7 linked regions of the Homo sapiens genome follow. The protein of the gene in region 1 purifies or fractionates together with the protein of each later gene. This does not show direct contact. Each region holds a gene or a part of one and is shown in the gene's direction. Other genes may lie near its edges. The genes, in order: ZSCAN5A, MYH8, CSNK2A2, ZMYM3, DDX51, BCKDHA and IPO8.

Evidence for each region.
Region 2: the proteins of ZSCAN5A (region 1) and MYH8 purify together in Homo sapiens (affinity purification with mass spectrometry; one large-scale study listed by BioGRID and IntAct). This does not show direct contact.
Region 3: the proteins of ZSCAN5A (region 1) and CSNK2A2 purify together in Homo sapiens (affinity purification with mass spectrometry; 2 studies listed by BioGRID and IntAct, with this or other methods). This does not show direct contact.
Region 4: the proteins of ZSCAN5A (region 1) and ZMYM3 purify together in Homo sapiens (co-immunoprecipitation; 2 studies listed by BioGRID and IntAct, with this or other methods). This does not show direct contact.
Region 5: the proteins of ZSCAN5A (region 1) and DDX51 purify together in Homo sapiens (co-immunoprecipitation; one large-scale study listed by IntAct). This does not show direct contact.
Region 6: the proteins of ZSCAN5A (region 1) and BCKDHA purify together in Homo sapiens (affinity purification with mass spectrometry; one large-scale study listed by BioGRID and IntAct). This does not show direct contact.
Region 7: the proteins of ZSCAN5A (region 1) and IPO8 purify together in Homo sapiens (affinity purification with mass spectrometry; 3 studies listed by BioGRID and IntAct, with this or other methods). This does not show direct contact.

The regions. Positions count from the first base shown.
Region 1 is NC_000019.10:56,220,840-56,224,339, reverse strand, and holds the end of ZSCAN5A (zinc finger and SCAN domain-containing protein 5A), read left to right. Parts: intron 1-505; coding exon 506-709; intron 710-1,598; coding exon 1,599-1,749; intron 1,750-2,013; coding exon 2,014-2,765; 3' UTR 2,766-3,037; downstream 3,038-3,500.
Region 2 is NC_000017.11:10,394,451-10,397,950, reverse strand, and holds part of MYH8 (myosin-8), read left to right. Parts: intron 1-964; coding exon 965-1,148; intron 1,149-1,232; coding exon 1,233-1,398; intron 1,399-1,496; coding exon 1,497-1,621; intron 1,622-2,509; coding exon 2,510-2,818; intron 2,819-3,498; coding exon 3,499-3,500. UniProt on the Homo sapiens protein: Muscle contraction.
Region 3 is NC_000016.10:58,191,607-58,195,106, reverse strand, and holds part of CSNK2A2 (casein kinase II subunit alpha'), read left to right. Parts: intron 1-3,500.
Region 4 is NC_000023.11:71,239,124-71,241,632, reverse strand, and holds the end of ZMYM3 (zinc finger MYM-type protein 3), read left to right. Parts: intron 1-288; coding exon 289-406; intron 407-524; coding exon 525-717; 3' UTR 718-2,009; downstream 2,010-2,509. UniProt on the Homo sapiens protein: Plays a role in the regulation of cell morphology and cytoskeletal organization.
Region 5 is NC_000012.12:132,136,094-132,138,706, reverse strand, and holds the end of DDX51 (ATP-dependent RNA helicase DDX51), read left to right. Parts: 3' UTR 1-2,113; downstream 2,114-2,613. UniProt on the Homo sapiens protein: ATP-binding RNA helicase involved in the biogenesis of 60S ribosomal subunits.
Region 6 is NC_000019.10:41,421,818-41,425,502, forward strand, and holds the end of BCKDHA (2-oxoisovalerate dehydrogenase subunit alpha, mitochondrial isoform 1 precursor), read left to right. Parts: intron 1-346; coding exon 347-553; intron 554-811; coding exon 812-953; intron 954-1,180; coding exon 1,181-1,352; intron 1,353-2,620; coding exon 2,621-2,791; 3' UTR 2,792-3,185; downstream 3,186-3,685. UniProt on the Homo sapiens protein: Together with BCKDHB forms the heterotetrameric E1 subunit of the mitochondrial branched-chain alpha-ketoacid dehydrogenase (BCKD) complex.
Region 7 is NC_000012.12:30,633,370-30,636,869, reverse strand, and holds part of IPO8 (importin-8), read left to right. Parts: intron 1-2,583; coding exon 2,584-2,787; intron 2,788-3,500. UniProt on the Homo sapiens protein: Involved in nuclear protein import, either by acting as autonomous nuclear transport receptor or as an adapter-like protein in association with the importin-beta subunit KPNB1.

The DNA.
Region 1 (3,500 bases):
TGTGTGAGGCCAACATGAAAGAAAGACATTGGTGAAATATTAGGCCTGATGGAATGTAGGGAAGGAGGCATTAGAGTGAACTGAAGGGGGGCCCAGGAGTCCCATCCTGAAGCAGGGAAAGTGGTTGGTATCAGATGCAGGGATCTGCCCCCAGGTCCCCAAATGAGCCCCTAAGTTCTAATACAAGGTGAGCTGCCATCGGCCAATTGAGTTGGATTCACCCAGAATATTTCTCCTTGTCTTCTCTTTGGTTTAGAGACTATTTCATCTAAAGGACCCATGTTTATGTACTTAACTAGAATATTCCAGGCGCAGGCAGGTGCTGGAGTCTAGAGAGGAAAAAATTCAGACAGGATTGCTGTGTCCACAGAGCTGACTCTCTATTGGGAAGGCAGATTTGAACATTAATTACAGTAAAGTGTGAGCATTATGGCAGGACCCAGGGAATATGAGAGCTACTTTCAGGTTCTCATGGTGAGTCTGATTGTCTTTTTTCTCTCTACAGTCTGTGGTCACCTTCCACGGAAAGGAATATATTGTGCAGGACTCAGATATCGAGATGGCTGAAGCCCCCTCCAGTGTCAGAGATGATCTGAAAGACGTGTCCAGCCAACGGGCCTCCTCGGTGAACCAGATGCGTCCAGGGGAAGGCCAGGCCCACCGAGAGCTGCAGATCCTGCCCAGGGTCCCTGCATTGTCCAGGAGGCAGGTGAGTGTGTGAGGCCTTGGTGTCTGGGCAGAGGTGGGAGAAGGAACAGGAGGAAATCGTGTGGCCGCTGGACTGATTGAGAGATTTGACACAGGACAAGATTAGAGCCATTCCCCATGGACATGATACATCCCCAAACATTCATTCCTGAGCCATCACAGAGAGGGAAGCCTCATCTACTTTTCTCTCCACCATGAGAGCTTTTAGCATTTAGGGTGGGGCATAAGAAATGATCTCAGTGAAATGAGGGAGGCAGTTTGCACAGATGAATGAAGATTCCTTCCCCGTAGCCAGTTTCCTCAAAGACATTTAATGTAATAATTCAGCAAGGAAACCATTTTCTACAGATTGTCAATTTCTTAATTTGAGGAGTGTTTCTCAACTGGGGTGATTCTGCCTTTCCGGACACATGGCCATGTCTGGAGATGCTTTTGTGTGTCATTGTAGGGGATGGTGGGGTGTTAATAGCATCTAGAGGGTGGAGGTGGGGTCTCTGCTCTGCACAGGAGCGCCCCCTCCAGCAGGGTGATGCAGCCCCAATGCCAGTGGTGCCACAGCTGAGGGGCCTCGACTAGAGTCATGCTCCTTCCAGTGTCAGGTGCAGGGAGACGTTGGCACGGCGGGGAGAAATATGCTCAGAGAACCAAACAGTGAAAACCACCAGGCACAGGAGCTGATTTGGAATATGGAGGGTGCAGATTAGGGACAGACACAGAAATGAGATGGTGATGTTTACGTGGGGTGATGGGGTGGTCCAGGGGAAGTCTGCACGTATTTCCACACCTGTGTCATTAGAAGAGTTGTTGCATCCAATCAGAAGGGGACAGATGTGTCCCTGCTTCCACCAGTTTGGACACAGCAGTCATTACTCTTGGTTTTTCCTCTTCAGGGAGAGGACTTTCTGCTACACAAGAGTATTGACGTAACAGGTGACCCAAAGTCTCTGAGACCCAAGCAGACCTTGGAGAAGGATCTGAAGGAAAACAGGGAAGAGAACCCAGGACTGACATCCCCAGAGCCTCAGCTTCCAAAGAGTCCCAGTGAGTATGAAGACTTGGATCCACAGGGGTTAGTCCCTCTCTTCTGGGGTGCGGGGCTGGGGGCCCAGCATTATCATCCCCTGGGGGAGTTGGCACTCAGCTGTCAAAGCCTCCCCATCCTCTACTTTCCAGAGACCTACAGTCCAATGTCTTAGGCTTGAGCTTGAGCGGAAGTTGTCAGCCAACATCAGTGTTTGGTTGCAATGAGTTTGGTGTATTGAAAATGCGCTTTATTAACTGTGTGTGTGGAATCCCTTCTTCCAGCAGATCTGGTGAGAGCAAAGGAGGGGAAGGACCCCCCAAAAATAGCCTCTGTGGAAAATGTGGATGCTGACACACCTTCTGCCTGCGTTGTGGAGAGAGAAGCTTCGACTCACAGCGGGAACAGAGGAGACGCTCTGAATCTGAGCAGTCCCAAAAGAAGCAAACCAGATGCCTCCTCCATTTCCCAAGAAGAGCCTCAAGGAGAAGCCACACCTGTGGGCAACAGAGAATCCCCGGGACAAGCTGGGATGAATTCAATTCATTCCCCAGGCCCTGCGAGCCCAGTCAGTCACCCGGATGGCCAAGAAGCCAAGGCACTGCCGCCCTTTGCATGTGACGTGTGCGAGAAGAGGTTTACGTGTAATTCCAAGCTAGTCATCCACAAGAGATCACACACAGGCGAGAGACTCTTTCAATGTAATCTCTGTGGGAAGCGCTTCATGCAGCTTATTAGCCTCCAATTTCACCAGCGAACCCACACTGGCGAGAGGCCCTACACGTGTGACGTCTGCCAGAAGCAGTTCACCCAGAAGTCCTACTTGAAGTGTCACAAGAGAAGCCACACAGGGGAGAAGCCCTTCGAATGTAAAGACTGCAAGAAAGTTTTCACCTACAGGGGGAGCCTGAAGGAGCACCAGCGCATCCACTCCGGAGAGAAACCCTACAAATGTTCCAAGTGTCCAAGAGCCTTCAGTCGGCTGAAATTGTTAAGACGCCACCAGAAAACACATCCAGAAGCTACTTCTCAGTGATTGCATAATCCGGTCTATGCCTTCTGCACCAAGAAGAAGTGAATGATATTTTTCATCAATGTTATCAGATGACATTTGACACATGCAAGGGCGTCTGACACACAGAGGGAGTGCCCTAGATATGAATTGCCAGGATGTTTGAGTAAATATGTGTCCTCCCCACTGAGCTTTGTTTTCTGTTTCATTATGTCCATTGTTTTCTTATAGGTTTATTTTGGTTTGTGTTGCTGTTCTTCCAATAAACGATCATCTTATTAGTTTTCAATATTGTATAACGGAAAACTGAGTTTCCTGATTGACATGGGGTTACCCACTGTTTTGCTGTAAAGTACAGTTGTCCAAGGAGGGTGGCCATATAAAATACATAATGCCTGATGAAATTTGAGTTTCAGATAAACAATTTTCTTTAGTATCAGCATGTTCTAAATTATTTATTTATCTGAAACTCAGCTTTTATTGGGTATCCTGTAGAGTTTTCGTTTTCTTTTTTCTTTCTTTCTTTTTTTTTTTTTTTGAGATGGCGTCTCCCTCTGTCACGCAGGCTGAGGTTCAGTGGCATAATCACCGCTCACTGCAGCCGCGACCTTCCAGGCTCAAGCAATCCTCCCATCTAAGCCTCCCGAGCAGCCGAGACTACAGGAGCACGCCACCAACTTGGCTAATTTTTGTGGTTTTTGTAGAGATGGAATTTTGATATGTTGCCCAGGCTGGTCTTGAACTCCGAAGTACAAGTGA
Region 2 (3,500 bases), on another chromosome or scaffold:
GTGTACTTGGCACACAACTGAAAATGAACTGAGAATGTAGAGAATTCAGGAGGGAAAAAAAACCTGCCTTTGTTTAAACTGCACGAATTGTCCTGATTTATGTATCAGTTTCTTTCCCAGGAGAGATTGTCCAACTATAATGATTAGAAGAAACTGGCTATTCTCTAGGAAAAAAACACATAAAATGGAATGAAAAGTCTGAGAAAGCAAATGAATATGCTCAGTATATTTCTGGCCAGTAAAATATCTAGTTAACCTCAAATCCATATTGGAGTGAGAATGGATATATAAGTCAAACAACAAGATTGTCCTGGCTAATAATTTTCCACAGTCATACTCAATCAGAAGTCTTGAAAATCCTGAGTTACTTAGGTAGTAAGGCGCATACAATGGCAGCACTAACAGCAGCCTCTTAGAATTCTATAATATTCCCAGGACTTGTTTCCAACTCTTCACCACTTTGGATCTTTCCATACAGTTTACCAATCTAGAAAGCAGTTCTGGCTGCCACCGTTTTGAAAATCATATGCCATTTGCCAGTATAGAAACAGGACCGTGGCCAGGCACAGTGGCTCACACCTGTAATCCCAGCACTTTGGGAGGCCAAGGCGGGTGGATCACCTGAGGTCAGGAGTTCAAGACCAGCTTGGCCAACATATGGTGAAACCCTGTCTCTATTTAAAAAAAAATATACATATATACAAAAATTAGCTGGGCATGGTGGTGCACATCTGTAATCCCAGCTACTTGGGAAACTGAGGCAGGAGAATCGCTTGAACCCGGGAGGTCGCAGTGACCGAGATTGCACCACTGCACTCCAGCATGGGCGACAGAGCGAGACTCCGTCTCTCAAAAAAAGAAACAAAAGAAAAGAAAAGAAATAGGACTGTGAAAAGGGACCAAGGAGGTTATCACTTTGCTTCTGGTCTTGGCCATTCTCCTGACTGCCTGGCTAACTTTTCAGGAAAAAGTTGGCCCAGCGCCTGCAAGAAGCTGAGGAACATGTAGAAGCTGTGAACGCCAAATGTGCTTCCCTTGAGAAGACGAAGCAGCGGCTCCAGAATGAAGTTGAAGACCTCATGCTTGATGTGGAAAGGTCTAATGCAGCCTGTGCAGCCCTTGATAAGAAGCAAAGGAACTTTGACAAGGTGGCCCAGACTGCTTAAACTTTAAGAGTGTTTTACTCGGTCTTCCTTTCTCCTTGGATCAACTCATGATTTATTGCTTTTCAGGTCCTATCAGAATGGAAGCAGAAGTATGAGGAAACTCAGGCTGAACTTGAGGCCTCCCAGAAGGAGTCACGTTCTCTTAGCACTGAGCTGTTCAAGGTGAAGAATGTCTATGAGGAATCCCTGGATCAACTCGAAACGCTAAGAAGAGAAAATAAGAACTTGCAACGTGAGTCCTCACAGTCCTCCCTACTCCATATATCCCTGGGAGGACCTTTCCATGTTGCCATCTTTCTGACCATTTCTCTCCTGTCTGTTCAACCACAGAGGAGATTTCTGACCTCACTGAGCAGATTGCAGAGGGAGGAAAGCAAATTCATGAATTGGAGAAAATAAAGAAGCAAGTAGAACAAGAGAAATGTGAAATTCAGGCTGCTTTAGAGGAAGCAGAGGTACATATTACCTTGTATTATGTTATGGAAAAACAAAGACAAACATCAGTTAAAAAAAAGTGGGGCTAGTGATAATTTAAACTCACAGGATCTTTATGAAGGACAACTTGGCAATAGTTATCAAAATCCTTAAAAATGTAAATACTCTGACCTATCAATTCTATTTCTAAGATTTTATCACCCAAAAGATGTCAAATGGAGTAAAGCTTTAAGGCAAAGATGTGCAATCTAAGAACAAAAGTAAGCAAATCACAGAACAGTCATGTGATGAAATTTTATATAGCCATGAAATATGATTATTTTGGAAAAATATTTTACGGTAGACAGTAATTTTAAAGACACAAATTTGCATATACAATATAATTTTGATTATGTAAAAATATATAGAAGTAGGAAAAAAGACTAGAAAAAATACACCATATTAAAATGTTTTTCTCTTTACTGGGGGAACAACAGCTAGGTTTTCTTTTGGTTTTATGTATTGCCTCCACATTATACAATGAACATTTATTATGTAATCGGAAAAAAAATTAACATTTTAAAACTGATAGTTTCTAGGTCAGGGGCTAGTATATCACACAAGAACATTTTAATTTCTAAAACAGATTGAGAATTTATATTTACTATACATGAATTTAATTATATAATTTTATTAGTATTAATATGAACAATATTTGTATAGCACAATGCACCTTTATTGCAGAGCTGCCCTATATAATCTGTCACTAAATAAACAAAATAATGATTTACCTAGAAGATTCCCAGAACTACTGTATTATACTTTGTAAAATTAGACAAACTGATATTGACAAGAGTTTGGCTCACGAGGGAATATACTCCAAATACTCAGGTTCTTCTCCATTATTAATTGATCACTGTTTTGTTAAGGCATCTCTTGAACATGAAGAAGGAAAGATTCTGCGTATCCAGCTTGAGTTAAACCAAGTCAAGTCTGAAGTTGATAGAAAAATCGCAGAAAAGGATGAGGAAATTGACCAGCTGAAGAGAAACCACACTAGAGTCGTGGAGACAATGCAGAGCACGCTGGATGCAGAGATTAGAAGCAGAAATGATGCTCTGAGAGTCAAGAAGAAAATGGAAGGAGATCTGAATGAAATGGAAATCCAGCTGAACCATGCCAATCGCTTAGCTGCAGAGAGTTTAAGGAACTACAGGAACACCCAAGGAATCCTGAAGGTAAACGGGTCCACATTCGCCTCCCAGATGAAGCAGGGAAAGTACCTGTCTTCCATTTCCCAAACACCTTGTTAAACGATCCTTTTTTTCTCTTAACAAATTATACAGCTGACCGCACAAAGGTAACTGAATTAAATACACATAGAACATATTATTTTTAAGAAAATGTTATGTAGAAGAACAAACAGATGCCTAGGCATTACAGTATGATATGAAAGAAAGTGAACAGACTTGGGCACCAGACAGGCCTGAGGTTGAGTCTTAGTTTTGTCATTTACTAGCTGCCTGATTTTAAGCAAATTACTTAACCTCTCAGAACCTCTGTTCCTTCTTCAAAATAAGAATGAAACTACCCACCTCACTGAGTTACTGTGAAGATCAAATGAAATAACAGATGTCAAGTCCTGATAGAGCATATGGAAACTGCTCCACAAATGACAGACATTAGTGACTCACACATGACACAGTAACCAGTTAATGGTAGAAATAGAACAAGAATCTATGTCTCCTGATAATTCTCTCTCACCCTAAGCAAATGACCTAACCATAATCAGATGCATTCAAATGACAGGCATATGTCATCTTCTGTTCCTGTCACCAGTACAATCTCCCAGTTCATCTCCTGGGATCTTCAAATCCTCTTCAGAACACTTAAGGCCTTTCTGTTTTTCACTTATTAGGA
Region 3 (3,500 bases), on another chromosome or scaffold:
CTTCAAATCTAAGAAATAAGCAAAACGTAAATTGAAATTAGGAATATCCATATTCCACTGCTGTATATTCAGAAGAATGAATTGCTGACTCTAAAGCAATTCCAGAAAAATGTCTGAACTTTTGTGCTATGGCAGCATTTTTAGAATAAGTGTATGATTTTCTGTGGTGCTTTTTTTTTTTTAAAGGAACAGCATTCAGGTGTGTGTATAAATACCAGCATGTTCATTTAGGAGAGCATCGCATTGCTGCTTCATCATCCAAAGAGCTTTATAGGCTCTAGCTTTCCCCCTACTTTAAAGATTCTTGGCGTATGTTAGGAAACCCAGTATGTAAGCTGCTGCAGGTTATCTTTACAAATGGGAGACCTAGGCACAAAGAAACTTACCTAATGTCATTATGTTGAATGACCATTAGCCAGAACTCCTGTTTCCTATTTCTTCATATCTCTTACTGTTCATTTTAGCACTGGATTGTAGGATCTGAACGTTGAGCACAGAAACAGGTACCAGTGTCCTGGAATCAGACTTGGGAGGCCCCTAGTTAATGAAATGTTTCTTGTTTCTTCTTGATGTTGTTTGTTTTCACAGTGCAGCCTAAACCACTAGTGAAAATTAGACTCACTTCTTTATGTTTTTTAAAGCCCGGTGGCATTTCTATCCAGATTTTGTTCCTGTCTGAAGGATGGGGTAATATATCACTAATGGCATTATTGTGGTTTTGTTGTTTTGTGAATTAAAAGTATTACTTTTTAAAAAGAACAGGGTAACAAGGTCTTTAGCCAAAGTTGTGTTTCTTTATTCAAATAAGTTGAAGTTATGACTAATAGCTACTATTGTGGTGCTTGGTCATAGGAAATTAGGTCCTTAACAGACTACCAGCTCCTCATAACTTGGAAGAATCTAGAACAGCCTTCCTTTTTGTAAAAGCCTGCTGTATTTTAGCTGCAGGATTGTATTATGCACATAGTGACCAAGATAGAGGGTGGCTTTCTTGAGGACAAGTGGTCTTACTTTTGTAGTCAGTAACGTTTCGTATCAGTTCTTTGCAATATATGTGAGAATGGGTGGATGATGAGTGACTACAGAGGAATTTTATATCATTTAATTTGCATTAGTGGATTTCCAGGTATTGATCAAAAATGAGCTGCTAAAAAGTTTTAGGAATTTAGAAACTGGTGAGCAAAATTTTACTGTCTATCCCCAAGTGGTATTCTGTGGCTAAAATCTTAAAACTTTCCAATCAATAGAGAGGTTGTATCTTTTTTTGACAAATTGTTTTGAGGAGAAAAGAGAAAAAGGAGGAGGAAAATGGTAAGCGTTTATATGGCAGGGCAGAAAGCTACATTAGTGCCAAAAGTTTCATCTTTTGATTTTGAAAAATCAGTTCTTCATTTCCTTTGTAGTACCTCTTAGAAAAGTGTACACAGAAGTAAAAGTGGCCACCTTTGACAACTTTTAGCATTTTATGAATACTGCCTGTGTGTGTAGATTTCAGTACTTCTTGGGGTCCTTGGGATCTTTCAAATTAAACTGCTATTTCTTGAATAAAAGTTAAGAGCAACACTATTTTTAAAAAACAGCATTTTGAACCAGTGCAAAATGACTTGGAAATTCCCATATAAGGCTTCCTCTTAGAGGTCTTATTTTATAAACAGATTGACTATCCATTTTCCCCTAGATATTAATTATTTAGCTTTAAACAAAGGGTGGTGGTATTAAAATTTTGCTCTTTAAGCATGTTTAGCATACTTGCAGATATTTTTTAAGTTCTGTGTTGTCAGTAGGTAGTGTTAAAAGGATGGGCATTGGTTATACATCTTTGTTAGTAGCTTCATCGTGAGCTGGTGATCTTTATATTATATCAGAATGGTGCTTTCCTCTTTATTTCCTCTTTATTTCTCCTGTGGTAGGTTTTTTACCCTCCTAAATTTAGGCATGTGTATGAAGACATCTTCCTGAAACAACACATTAGTGGTATTTATCTAAGTTTTTGGTACATTCTGATTTTCACTAATGTCTCATGGTATAAAAGTAGTGCAAACAGTATCACTAAAGTATTGCTAACATTAAAAATAATGTTAAAAATTATATGTGAACTAGGCCGTTTCCAGCATTGTACTGGGGAGTCACAGATTAAGAGTGTAGTTAACCTGTGTCAAACAGAATCGCAGAATGCGGGCACTTAGAAACCTAGAAACCATTAGAACCCAGGCCCTTTTTACAAATCAACCAAGACCCAGAGAAAGGATGTATATGCTCAGCGTCATGTAGTCAGGGGGTGGAAGCACTCGGTGTAGGACCTTGTGTACCTGTCATGAAGTCTTGGTAGATGCGAGGAGCATAATTAGGACATTAGCTGGATGTTTGACTTTGTGATGTCCTGATCTGTACTGGAAGAATTGAGGAACACTCACCAGGAGTCAAATGAAGTTAATTCGTTTCTAATGATTTTTGGAGTTATTTTTCTCAAAGGAAGTGTTTGACTTTGGTAAGTTGCTAGTTGAAGTGTGGAATCCAAGAGTCCTCGAGGGCTATAGGGACCCAGGCAGGCGTTCTCTATGATTAGTATCCACAGCAGCATGTTTAATGCTTCAATGAAATGCTGCTTTATTCTCTTGAAGCCTCAGTAAATAGTGTTTTTATGGTTTTTTTTTTTTTTAACCCATAGAGTTCCTCCAAGTCTCAGCATGATCACTTGGCAGATTTCGGGATTAATAGTTTAATAGTTTTATCCCTTTAATATATGAGTTTATTTGAGAGCAAACCACATGTGAAAAGAATATCTTGATATAGTGTGCCCATTTTCATGTATAAAGCAGGGCTCCAGATAGTTTCTAGAGTTTAATTTCAGGATCTACCATCTCATCATCAGGGTGGTGTAGTGTAGGAAGTGCTGTAAATGAGAGGGCAGAAGGCTTGAGTTCCAGAACTAGTTTCTTCATTGATACCCACTTGACTGTTTTCTCATCTATGAAATAAGCATACATTTCCTGCTTAAGTCACAGGATTGTTAGGAAAGTCAGATAAACTATAGATAGATGGGTAGAGAGATTGATTGTCATGTTTTAGTAATCTACAAAATGCTTTTCTTTCCTGAGAGAGTATGGCCTAGGAAGTGGTCTGCCTGGTTTCAGGTGTTAGCTCCAACTGTAGACGCTCTGTGACGTCAAACAGTTACTTAAGTTCTCTGTGCCTTGGTGTCCTTCCTCAAGTAAAACTGTTAATAGTGCTCATCTAAGACGGTTAAATGTGCTTAAAACAGTGCCTGGCCTGAGAGATCAATAAAGTATAGTAGTAATAACAATATTACATTTGGGTCATGCGAGTGATGTTAGAGGCAGAACCAATAGTAGAAAGGGTTGTAGTGTTCTCCTAATGAGATTCAAAGGGTCTGCTCTATGCCTTGCCTTTAAAAAAAAATTGTGTTAAAATACATGTAACATAGGCTAGGCGCGGTGCCTCACGCCTGTAATCCCAGCCCTTTGGTAGGCCGAGGTGGG
Region 4 (2,509 bases), on another chromosome or scaffold:
CAGGTCTTTTGAATAACTTCTGAGATCACCTCTTCAAGATAGCAACTTGGGGGAGATTTTAAAGAGAGTCTTTGGCAGTGGGAACTGGGGAGGGTTGCATAACAACAGCCCGACAGGATGTTGGGTTGGCGTGGGAGAGGGAGACTGACCTCTTCTTCCACCTCTCCATCTTGATGAGACTGTAATTTGTGTCGTGACGCCTTCTCCCTGTGCCCTGAACTGTGCTCTTGGATGTGGCTCATGGAGCCTGTGTTCTTAATGAGTCTGAATCATTTCCCTCCCCTATAGACACGGGTCCTGGAAAACGGAAGAGAGAAGATGAAGCCCCTATCTTAGAGCAGCGTGAGAACCGCATGAATCCCCTCCGCTGCCCTGTCAAGTTCTATGAATTCTATCTCTCAAAATGGTGAGTTGGTGGGTTGGCAGGAAAAGCGTTAGCATGGGGACCCGAGGGATCTACTTTGCCTTGGTACTGATCTTCTGTCCTGCCACCCCCACTCCCACTCCCACCCCCGATGTTGCAGTCCTGAAAGCCTCCGGACTCGCAACGATGTGTTCTACCTGCAACCTGAACGGTCCTGCATCGCCGAGTCACCTCTCTGGTATTCTGTGATCCCCATGGACCGCAGCATGTTGGAGAGCATGCTCAATCGCATCCTGGCTGTGCGCGAGATTTATGAGGAACTGGGTCGTCCTGGGGAGGAAGACCTGGACTGAGCTCGTGTGCCATCCATATCCATCTTTCACATCAATGTCTGTCCTGTGGCCATGTCCCTCAGGGTGACAGGCCCAGGAACCAATGCTACTCATTCTGAAGGGCCCTGACTGCTCCTTTCCGCTCACCCATTCCCTGCCTTCTCTAGGAACCCTGGCTTTTATCTTCTTCCGTACCACTTGACAACCATGGGGCCCTGGTCTTCTGTACTCAGGGGCTGGTCTCCCAGTGATGGGCAAAAGCCAGCTTGCCCGTTTTCTTTATGCTTCAGAGTAAACCCCTCCTTCTGGGTCCAGACTCTGGGTGGAGTGTTAATAGCTCTGGTGATCCTGTTGGCTTTGGGTTTCCTGACCCATCCCGCATAGGTAGAGCCTCTTGTTCCTAGGCATGACCTAGGGAAAAACCCAGCTGCCTTCTCTGCCCTGTGCCCACTCCCTTCTCTACTCTTCCCCAGCACCATGCCAAAAGGTCTTATCTGAAAGGTAAGAAATAAACAATGAAAGCGATGAGGGGACCATTTACATAAAACACAGAGCTTAGACACTCTTCCCCTCCTATGAAATAATTGGTTGTTGGCACCATCTCACCACCGCATATCCCTCACCCCCTCGGCAAGCACCAATCCTTGGTGCTGCCGTTTTTAAAATCTTCCAAATGCCTTTTTTTCCTCAGAGGCAGAGAATGACTAAGTACGGGGAGCAGACTCCTGTTGTGCAGACTCCTGTCCCCTTGGTTTCTGTGTTTGTCTCTCTGCCATCTTAGGTTGCCATGAGCCATGGTGTCAACATGCTTAGCCCCCTCTGTAACTGCCTCCCTTTAGTTCAATGGACAGACCTCCCAAGGCAAAAACTACCTTCTGACTTGGGTTGAGGCTGGGTTCCCCTCTATTGTTCCCCTATCATAAGAGCTAGGCCAAGCCTATGGGACCTTGAGTCATGCAGGATGGGATCTGTGGTCAAAGGACAGGCGAGGAGCTGTGGGCGCAGGGCCTGCCGCCACTGCCTACATCTTCTCTCTTCCCCATCTTGCATTGGAGGTCCCAGAAAACAATTAGCTTCTGGCAAAGGGGGTACCCACTTCTTTCCCTGTTGACTTTGCTGTTTCCCAGGCTCCTTTTTGTGTTTTTATAACTGTCACCAGTTAGCCACTGTTTAAATTGTATATATTGTTCTGAGGCGCCTGGCCTGTCCCTTCAGTGAGCCATGCCCACCCTTGTGTTGTAGTGAGAAGCTGTTGTCACGACTAACCTTCTGTCTCTGAAATTGTTTGTTTCAAATAAAGAGTTAAAATTGTCTTTTGTCTTTTCTGGGTGATGGATATAGAGGAGCAACACTGGATAACTTCAAATCTCTCCAAGTGTAAACAAGTCAGGTGTTTGAGAATCGTTCTTACTTTACTGTCTTACTTTGGATCTACTGGGAATGTGGTGTTTTTTTTGTTTTTTTTGTTTTTGTTTTTGTTTTTTTTTTATAACAAGTTTCCAAACACTTAAGGAAAAAAAAATACTCACTCACTAGCTATGTATTAAGGACCTATTATGTTTAAAGACCTAGATTACGTGCTTCAAAAAATACAAAAAGACTGGTTAGACCAGGATCCAATCCCCAGCAGGCTCCCAGGCTATAGGGGAGACCAAATAGTACACAATTAGTCATAATACAGGCAGAATAAAATGAATAGTGCTATGGGAGGACAGAGGAATAAATAACTCACTTCAGGTTTACAGGGAGGCTGGGTGCAGTGGCTTGCGTCTGTAATCCCAGTACTTTGGGAGGCCAAGGTGGGAGGATTCCT
Region 5 (2,613 bases), on another chromosome or scaffold:
TGGAGGTTGCAGTGAGCTGAGATTGCGCCACTGCACTCCAGCCTGGGCAACAAGAGCAAAACTCCGTCTCAAAAAAAAAAATTGCCGGGCGCGGTGGCAAATGCCTGTAATCCCAGCACTTTGGGAGGCCGAGGCAGGTGGATCACAAGGTCAGGAGATAGAGACCATCATTGCTAACATGGTGAAACCCCGTCTCTACTAAAAATACAAAAAAAAAAAAAAAACAACTAGCCGGGCGTGGTGGCGGGCACCTATAGTCCCAGCTACTCGGGAGGCTGAGGCAGGAGAATGGCGTGAACCCGGGAGGCGGAGCTTGCAGTGAGCGGAGACTGCGCCACTGCACTCCAGCCTGGGCAACAGAGTGAGACTCCGTCAAAAAAAAAGCTCTCCTCCCCAGATTTGTGAACCTTGTGACTGTTCAGTGGACACCTCACATATTGCTGGTGGGAAGGTCACGTGGAGACAGCTGGGCAAAGCCTTGGGGCGTTAAACACAGAGTCACTCATGACCCAGCACTTCCTCTCCTATGCACCTTGTACACCCCAGATCAATGAAACCTACATCCACACAGAAACGTACACAAATCTCTCAGCAGCACTGTTCACAGTAGCCAAAAACTAGAAACCACATGTCCGTCAGCTGATGAATGGAGAATAAAACGTGGGAAATCCACACCAGGAGAGAAAAAGGAGTGAGGCACCAGCATAGGCACCCCGTGGATGAACCCGGAACCTGACGCTAACTGAAGGAAGGCTCCGGCTATAGGGAGTGTCCCAGGCACAGCCAGAGATTGAAGGGTGCCGGGGCCGGGAGTTGGTGGGGGTTGGGGCTGGGGACACAGTGGCCAGTGTGTGGGTTTGTTTTGGGGATGATGAAAATGTTCTTAGGTTGTGTGTGGTGATGGCTGCTCACCTCTATAAACCTTTTACTAAAAACCATGGACTGGGTGGATACAGTGTGTGAATTCTCTCAGTCCAGTGCTTTGTTTGAAAAAGGTGGATGATGCCAACATCACTAACCGCCAGGGAGACGCAGGCCACGGCCACACCCGGCTCACTGGAGTTGTGAGGATGGAAACACCAGCCCACCCCACTCAGTTCAGACCTCAGCTTAGATGCAAAGAATGTCTGGGATGGGGACTGGCAGCTGATTAGAGATGCAACCACTGAACCTGTGGACTGTGTTCAAACAAATGCCAGCAGAACACAAAAGGCGACTGTTACAGGAGGCAGAAAGAAATGATTTAGGTAGACGGGGTAAAGCCAGTCCCCAGCAGAAAATTTGCCTTTTAACAAAAAGCAGCTCAAAAATAGCTCCCTTTCTAACCTCGGGGTTCAAAATCACTTCTCACGACAAGCAGCCAGAAAGAGCAGACTGTGAATCACAGATGAGACAGCTCGGGCACAGGAGTGCGGGGGGTGTCTCCTGGGTGATCACCAAACTTCACACTTCCACAATGGGCCCCAGTAAAACAGTGGACCCTAATAAGCACATTCCCGTCCCCTTAGGTGCACTAAGGGAAGCTAAAAGCAGACTGAGGGGTGCCTGTAACCCCAAGAAGATGTCTGGGAGCAGACCCAGAGACCCTCGCAGAAAAGTGTCACAGAGCAGCACAGACTGAGTCTGACAGAAACTCTCTATACAAATAGCACACCTTGTCCCAGCTAAAACCCTGGGCCCTGGGAGGACAAGACATCCCTCCTCTAACCCCTCGTCACTAGCCCATTTGTAAAAACCTTGACAGGCCGGGCACGGTGGCTCACACCTGTAATCCCAGCACTTTGGGAGGCTGAGGCAGGCGCATCACCTGAGGTCAGGAGATCGAGACCATCCTGGCCAACATGGTGAAACCCCATCTCTACTAAAAATACAAAACTTAGCTGAGCGTGGTGGCGTGTGCCTGGAGTCCCAACTACTCAAGAGGCTGAGGCAGGAGAATCACTTGCCCGGGAGGTGGAGGTTGCAGTGGGCCAAGATCAGCCCACTGCACTGCAGCCTGGCGACAGAAAAAAAAGAAACCTTGACATCTTTACTACAACTTAGCAACCCGCTCAGGCCCCCTCTGCAACGGAGAGCTCTTCTTCCTTTTTGCTTATTAAACTTCTGCTCCAAACTCACTGTGTGTGTGTGTGTCTGTCTGCGACCTCGATCTCCTTGGCCATGAGACCAAGAACCTTGGTATTTACCCCAGACCACAAGGCTGCTTCACGATGATTGCCATTTATCGGGGATTGATAGTGGCTCAGTGCTGCTGGGTTCGCAGACATAAGATGTGGGCCTGGCCACACACTCGGGAGGTGGGAGGAGCGGGCACCGTGGGCACACTCGGGGAGGTGGGAGGAGCGGGCACCGTGGGCACACTCGGGAGGTGGGAGGAGCGGGCACCGTGGGCACACTCGGGAGGTGGGAGGTAGCGGGCACCGTGGGCACACTCGGGGAGGTGGGAGGAGCGGGCACCGTGGGCACACTCGGGAGGTGGGAGGAGCGGGCACCGGGGCACACTCGGGAGGTGGGAGGAGCGGGCACCGTGGGCACACTCGGGGAGGTGGGAGGAGCGGGCACCGTGGGCACACTCGGGGAGGTGGGAGGAGCGGGCACCGTGGGCACACTCGG
Region 6 (3,685 bases), about 15 Mb from region 1:
GCTGCTCAGTAACTTGGGCTTGACCAGGGTGGTGCAGAGGAGGAGGTAAGAGGGGTTAGGTTCTGAAGGTGGAGTAGATGTGGAGAATGGCGGGAAGTTTGGCTTGGAGATGATACTGGACTCTTCAGCCTGAGCAGTTGGAAGGGTGGAGTTGCTTTCAGCTGAGCAAGAGGAGACCTGGGTGGGCAGATGCTGGGGGGCATCAGGAGCTGAGGTGTTTCCTTTCCCCTTGAAGCCTGGTGACTGCTGGCCTGAGCCACGCTTGAGCCGTGGGTCATGTGAGTGTGAATGAGTGTGAGTGCATGTGAGTCTCCGCCCCTGCTCACCACCCTCTCATCCCCTGCAGCGGTGGGGGCGGCGTACGCAGCCAAGCGGGCCAATGCCAACAGGGTCGTCATCTGTTACTTCGGCGAGGGGGCAGCCAGTGAGGGGGACGCCCATGCCGGCTTCAACTTCGCTGCCACACTTGAGTGCCCCATCATCTTCTTCTGCCGGAACAATGGCTACGCCATCTCCACGCCCACCTCTGAGCAGTATCGCGGCGATGGCATTGGTATGGGCTCTGCTGGCTGCTCCCCACCCCGCTGGGATCATCTCCTTCCCTCCCCAATCCTGCCACCTTCCTGCCACCCCTACCCTCCTTCCTGGTTCTCGTCCTGTGTCCTGTGGCGTCTGGCACTTGGTCAGCCACAGGAGTTGAGGTCCTGAGCACTCAGCCTTGCTCTCTGTCCTCTCCCTGCTCGTCCCCTTGGCCTCGTGCATGTTCCTTATCTCAGCCCTGGCCTGACCTGCCTTCTCTGTGTCCCCACAGCAGCACGAGGCCCCGGGTATGGCATCATGTCAATCCGCGTGGATGGTAATGATGTGTTTGCCGTATACAACGCCACAAAGGAGGCCCGACGGCGGGCTGTGGCAGAGAACCAGCCCTTCCTCATCGAGGCCATGACCTACAGGTGCCTGCCGCTCCCCCCGTCAGCACCCCCACAGCACTGACAGCCACCGTAGCATCTTCCTCATATCGATCACTGTCTCCAAAACATGGCCTTATCACCTGATGTTGCATCTCCCCCTTGCCTTTATTCCGTTTCCACTCCTCCTTCCCTAGTTCATCCCCCATCCTCCCTCCTGACCCCCACTCCAGGGAGCCCACACTGACCTGGGGCCCCTTGCCCCTGTGCAGGATCGGGCACCACAGCACCAGTGACGACAGTTCAGCGTACCGCTCGGTGGATGAGGTCAATTACTGGGATAAACAGGACCACCCCATCTCCCGGCTGCGGCACTATCTGCTGAGCCAAGGCTGGTGGGATGAGGAGCAGGAGAAGGCCTGGAGGAAGCAGTCCCGCAGGAAGGTGAGGGTGCCCCGCCCGGGAGGGTGTGCTGGGGGCTGCTGCGGCCTGCAGAGCTTGGGAAGGATTTGTGGAACACCGAACTGGGAGGCTCAGGGATAACCCCAGTGATGTCTCAGATGTGGCCTGTGGAGCCAGGCTGCTGGGGCCATGTGTGTCCTGGCTCTGTGTCCTTGGCATGTTGCCCTCCACTTCCTTGTCTTTGAAAGGGGATGCTGGTGGTGCCCATTTCAGAAACTGGTTTGAGACTGGGCATGGTGGCTCACACCTGTAATCCCAGCACTTTGGGAGGCCGAGGTGGCAGATCACTTGAGGTCAGGAGCTTGAGAACAGCCTGGCCAAACATGGTCAAGCCCTGTCTCTACTAAAAATACAAAAATTAGGGCTGGGCGCAGTGGCTCACGCCTGTAATCCCAGCACTTTGGGAGGCCAAGGCGGACAGATCACCTGAGGTCGGGAGTTTGAGACCAGCCTGGCCAACATGGTGAAACCTCGTCTCTAATAAAAATACAAAAATTAGCCGGGCATGGTGCCGGGTGCCTGTAATCCCAGCTACTTGGGAGGCCGAGGCAGGAGAATTGCTTGAACCTGGGAGGTAGAGGTTGCAGTGAGCTGAGATCGTACCATTGCACTCCAGCCTGGGCAACGAGAGCAAGACTCCATCTCAAAAAAAAAAATTAGCCAGGCGTGGTGGTGCGTGCCTGTAGTCCCAGCTACTCAGGAAGGTGAGGCAGAAGAATCGCTTGAACCCGGGAGGTGGAACTTGCAGTGATTGGAGATGGCGCCACTGCACTCCAGCCTGGGCAACAGAGCAAGACTATCTCTTAAAAAAAAAAAAAAGCTGGTTTGAGGATTAGGTGGCAAACCGTGGTGGAGTGTACATGCCCTGCCCAGAGTCAGTGTGCCACCCTCCCTGGCCCGGTCATTAGGACCCAGGGCCCGTGCAGCCCAGTGGTGAGGGCAGCACCCGGCATAGGGCAGCACCGTGTGTCCTGTCCCTGCCCTTCTCTGTGCCTCAGTTTCCTCATTGCTTAGCTGTCTACCTCTTAGGGCTGCTGAAAGCCTTAAATGATTCCACACACTTGGATAGCACCTGATCCCTGCTGGGATTTGAGGGTTTTCATTACACTTCTGCTAGGATAATCATTTCCATTGTCGAGGTGGGAACACAAAGGCTTGGAGTGGTTAATTCCTTGCCAAGGCCCCGCAGGAGGAAGCAGGGTCCTGCATGGGAGGCCGGCTAGCCTGCCCACTGCCCCATGTCCCCACAGGTGATGGAGGCCTTTGAGCAGGCCGAGCGGAAGCCCAAACCCAACCCCAACCTACTCTTCTCAGACGTGTATCAGGAGATGCCCGCCCAGCTCCGCAAGCAGCAGGAGTCTCTGGCCCGCCACCTGCAGACCTACGGGGAGCACTACCCACTGGATCACTTCGATAAGTGAGACCTGCTCAGCCCACCCCCACCCATCCTCAGCTACCCCGAGAGGTAGCCCCACTCTAAGGGGAGCAGGGGGACCTGACAGCACACCACTGTCTTCCCCAGTCAGCTCCCTCTAAAATACTCAGCGGCCAGGGCGGCTGCCACTCTTCACCCCTGCTCCTCCCGGCTGTTACATTGTCAGGGGACAGCATCTGCAGCAGTTGCTGAGGCTCCGTCAGCCCCCTCTTCACCTGTTGTTACAGTGCCTTCTCCCAGGGGCTGGGTGAGGGCACATTCAGGACTAGAAGCCCCTCTGGGCATGGGGTGGACATGGCAGGTCAGCCTGTGGAACTTGCGCAGGTGCGAGTGGCCAGCAGAGGTCACGAATAAACTGCATCTCTGCGCCTGGCTCTCTACCACCTCTGGTCTTTGTTTCCTGGAGTTTGGGGGTGATTTGAGGCCACCCCCAGCTTCTCCACCTTAGATAAATAAGGTCAAGGCTCTTGAGATACCTACTTCCCCCGGAAGCTTGCGCAAGCTGGAAGGTTAACTTCAGCAGACAGGATGGGGGTGGGGGGGTCCTCCAGAGATGGTCTCCTGCTCTCTCACAGAATGGGAGAAGCCTGCTGTCCAGCAGAGTGATGGGGAGCCCAGTGGAGCTAGCCCTGCCCAGCAGGGGTGCAGGGGAGCGTCCAGGATGAAGGTCAGGGTGTGGCCAAGCCCTGCTCCCCACCACTCCAGGGCCCCACAGATGCAAAAACAACCCCAGGCCTCAGAGTGGGGAGTGCATGTTTTTCAAAAACAAAAAGTAGGCAAAAACAGTCCACCACCCCATCTTTCCTGCCCAGGCCCCTGGCTGGGGGAGGCCAAGGAGTGGCTTAAGTTGTCCAGCTTCTGGGCCCTCCTCCCTCCCATC
Region 7 (3,500 bases), on another chromosome or scaffold:
CTACACATATAACAAATATTTTGGGCTTGGTTGACTTGCTATTAATTGTATCATGCTATATAAATTTAGATTTATGCACCTTCTGACACCTAATATACTCAGCGGTTTTTTTTATGGAGCCTAATAGATGCTGTTACACATTAGGAAACACATTTATAACAATCAAATGGTCTTGACTGTAAGTTAGCAATCTAGTATCTAACTTTCTTGTTTGTGCTAACAGCCTCATCAAGGCAGTAGCCATGAGTTAAATGAATCATTACATTAAGAGCTGAAGTGTTAGTACCACAGATTAGTAGAGAGTGTCTTTTTTTTCTTTTTCTGGAATGGTTCTTAGGTGACTCATTAGCAAAAATTACATTTGAGAGACGTCCATATTTGTGATTTAAATATAAATTAAGGTAAAGTACATAAATGAAGTGGATATACTTGAGAATCAGAATAAGATTGTTAGAGTTGAATATTAGACCTTTGTTTTGTTTAATGATGAGATTGCGGAGCTACTTGCTAGAGACTAGGAAGTAGCATTCTCCTATTCCAGGTGGATTTTTTCCTCTCCTGGTTAAAAACAGATACTTTGTTAGCTGAGAAAAATCAGAACTCTTCCTGGTAAACATACAGCTCTATTTTTGATGCTAAATTCTGTGATTTTAGCATGGATAGATTTAAAACACTTTTAACTGGCATCATCCCAGTTTGTTCATATACCAGAGATTATAAACTACCCTTTTTCTCCCCTCCACAGCACAAAATACAGCTTCTAATTTGTTTTTCTGAAATCTGTGTAGGTCTTTTGAAGAAATGCTTCTTTATTAGAAGTGTTGCATGTGTGATTTTTGTTTTGTTTTGTTTTGTTTTTAGCTAACTGTGTGTCAACAGTTGTAGAATTCTTTTATTTTTTCCAGTATGTTATGATCTCTAATTTCTTGTTTTGGCAACTCTTTATTGGCTTATACTGTATGGCTTGAGGGAAAATTTTCTGGTAATATCCCACACTTTCTTGTACTTCCTACTAAAGTATGGAATGATTAACTAGTGGAGGTATTTCTCAGTCTTTTTGTATTAATAGTTATAATTTGCCATGCATTTTTTCGTGTATTTGGTCCAAACTCTGGTTAAGTGCCTTATTCCTAAAACTACCTAGTTCAATCTACCTGCTTCAATATGGTGTGTCTAATAGAACTAGTTTTAGGTTAATATTACCTGGTTTGGGTTTACTCCAGGATTTCTCTCTTATCTTGATTTTTGTTCTGCATTTACTGCCTTCCTGTTCCAGTATTTCAGTTACAATCTAACTGCTAGGAACAGATTGACACTGAAAATAGATACAGAATCCATGGTGATACATAATGTAGTTCAAGTTTTTAACTTTTCAAGCGACATGTAGCTATTTTTCTTTACATTTTTGCTATTTCTTTTTATTATAAATTAGCAAATTATATATTTATGGAGTACAAAGTGATGTTATGATTTGTGAATATAATGCGGAATGATTAAATCAAACTAATATATCCATCACCTTAAATACCCTTTTTAATGGTGGGAACATTTGAAATTTACAATCTTGCCAATTTTGAAATGTACATATACTATTAACTGTATTCACCATGCTGTACAATAGATACCAAAACAAAACAAAACAAAACAAAAACCTAATTCTTCCTGAGACTTTGTACCCTTTTACCAACATTCCCATATTCCCACCACCTCTAGCCTCTGGTAACCACCATTCTATTCTCTACTTCTATGAGTTTGATTGTTTTAGATTCTATGTATAAGTGAGAACAGGCAGTATGTGTCTTTCTGTGCCTGGCTTATTTCACTTATCATAATGTCCAAGTTCATCAGTGTTGTTGGAATTGACAGAATTACCTTTTTAAAAGCTGAATAGTGTTTCATTTTAAAGAATCCACATTTTCTTTATTCATCCGTTGTTGATGGACACTTAGGTTGATTCTGTAACTTGGCTATTGTGAATAATGCTGCGATGAACACAGGGCTGCTGACATCTGTTCTACGTATTGATTTAAAATATTTTAGATATATATCCTGAAGTGGGATGGCTGGATCTGTATTTTTACTGTTTCTACTAGCAGAAATGATCTCATTTGGGCATTTCTAAGCACTTTATAATCAACTCAGTTAATTAAGAGGACTGAATTCTCAATAGGAAGTCATTGTTTAAAACACATGCACTGACCGTACAGTCACTTTTTTTTTAAACAAAGGTAATTTTGAAATCTGCAATTGAATAATATTCTTGTATTAATGAACTTGCATAGCCTAACAGTAGTAATGTTCATCTGGATAACAGGTTTAGGGAACTTGTTTTCAGTGAGGAGGATAAGGACATTCTCAACTTAGCAAACTCTACAGTAAAGATAAGGTTTATTTATTTTATTTTTTATTTTTATTTTTTGACTCTCCTCTTTAGACCAGGGATAAGATTTATTTTTATTAAAATTTTGTGGAAGATTTTTTCCTTTCCAGAGTGTAGTTTTATAGTCTTTGGTTTTTGTCGTGAAGTTTTATATTTTGTCCTTATGTGTTTTGATTCCTTTTAAATAATTAATGGGTTCACAGAGGAGATTTCAAGTGATGAAGAGGAGACAAATGTAACTGCTCAAGCAATGCAGTCAAATAATGGAAGAGGTGAAGATGAGGAGGAGGAAGATGATGACTGGGATGAAGAAGTATTGGAAGAAACCGCGCTTGAGGGGTTCAGTACTCCACTTGACCTTGACAATAGTGTGGATGAATATCAGTTTTTTACACAAGCTCTGATAAGTATGTCTTTACTTCCCCACATCTTCTGATATTTTTTTTTCTAAACTCTTTCTTCATTTCTTCCTGTTTTGATATTTGCCCAAGATTGGTCTAGGTTCTTTTAAAAATTTTTTTGTTTATTCCTTATGATAGAAATCCCCAAACATACATACATGAAATGATAGAAATTAAAATAATGAAACACCTATCACCCAATCCTAGCAGCTTTCATCATTGAGAAGTAGCAGGGTGAGCCTGTATGTTATCCTTGCAAAAGTAATATGTGGAGTATCTGTGTATATTGTTCATCCTTTAGGCATAAATGGGCAAGCATTTTTATAGCAAAGAATGAAGTGTTTCAGGCATACATTGCTTAAAAATTGTGGCTAACAACCTACTAGTTATTCACAATCCCTAGAATGAAATTGCTGCCGTAAGAGGGTGACTTTTTACTTTGTAAGTAATTTGCCAATTTTATACAACAAAGAACAGTATAATTACAGTTACAGGACTCATAAATGATTCGGGGGGAGAAAATATTTGCCACATATGCATAATAGGCATAATGTACACAGTGTACAGAGGCCATCCTCAGATACATAAGACCAGTAACCTAGTAGAAAATGGAAATGGAAAATTTACAGAATAAAAACAAGCCAATGAGGATATTTAGAAAATTATTAATCAAATAAATTATTTTAAATCTCATTAATATAGATTATTTGTTTTATGGT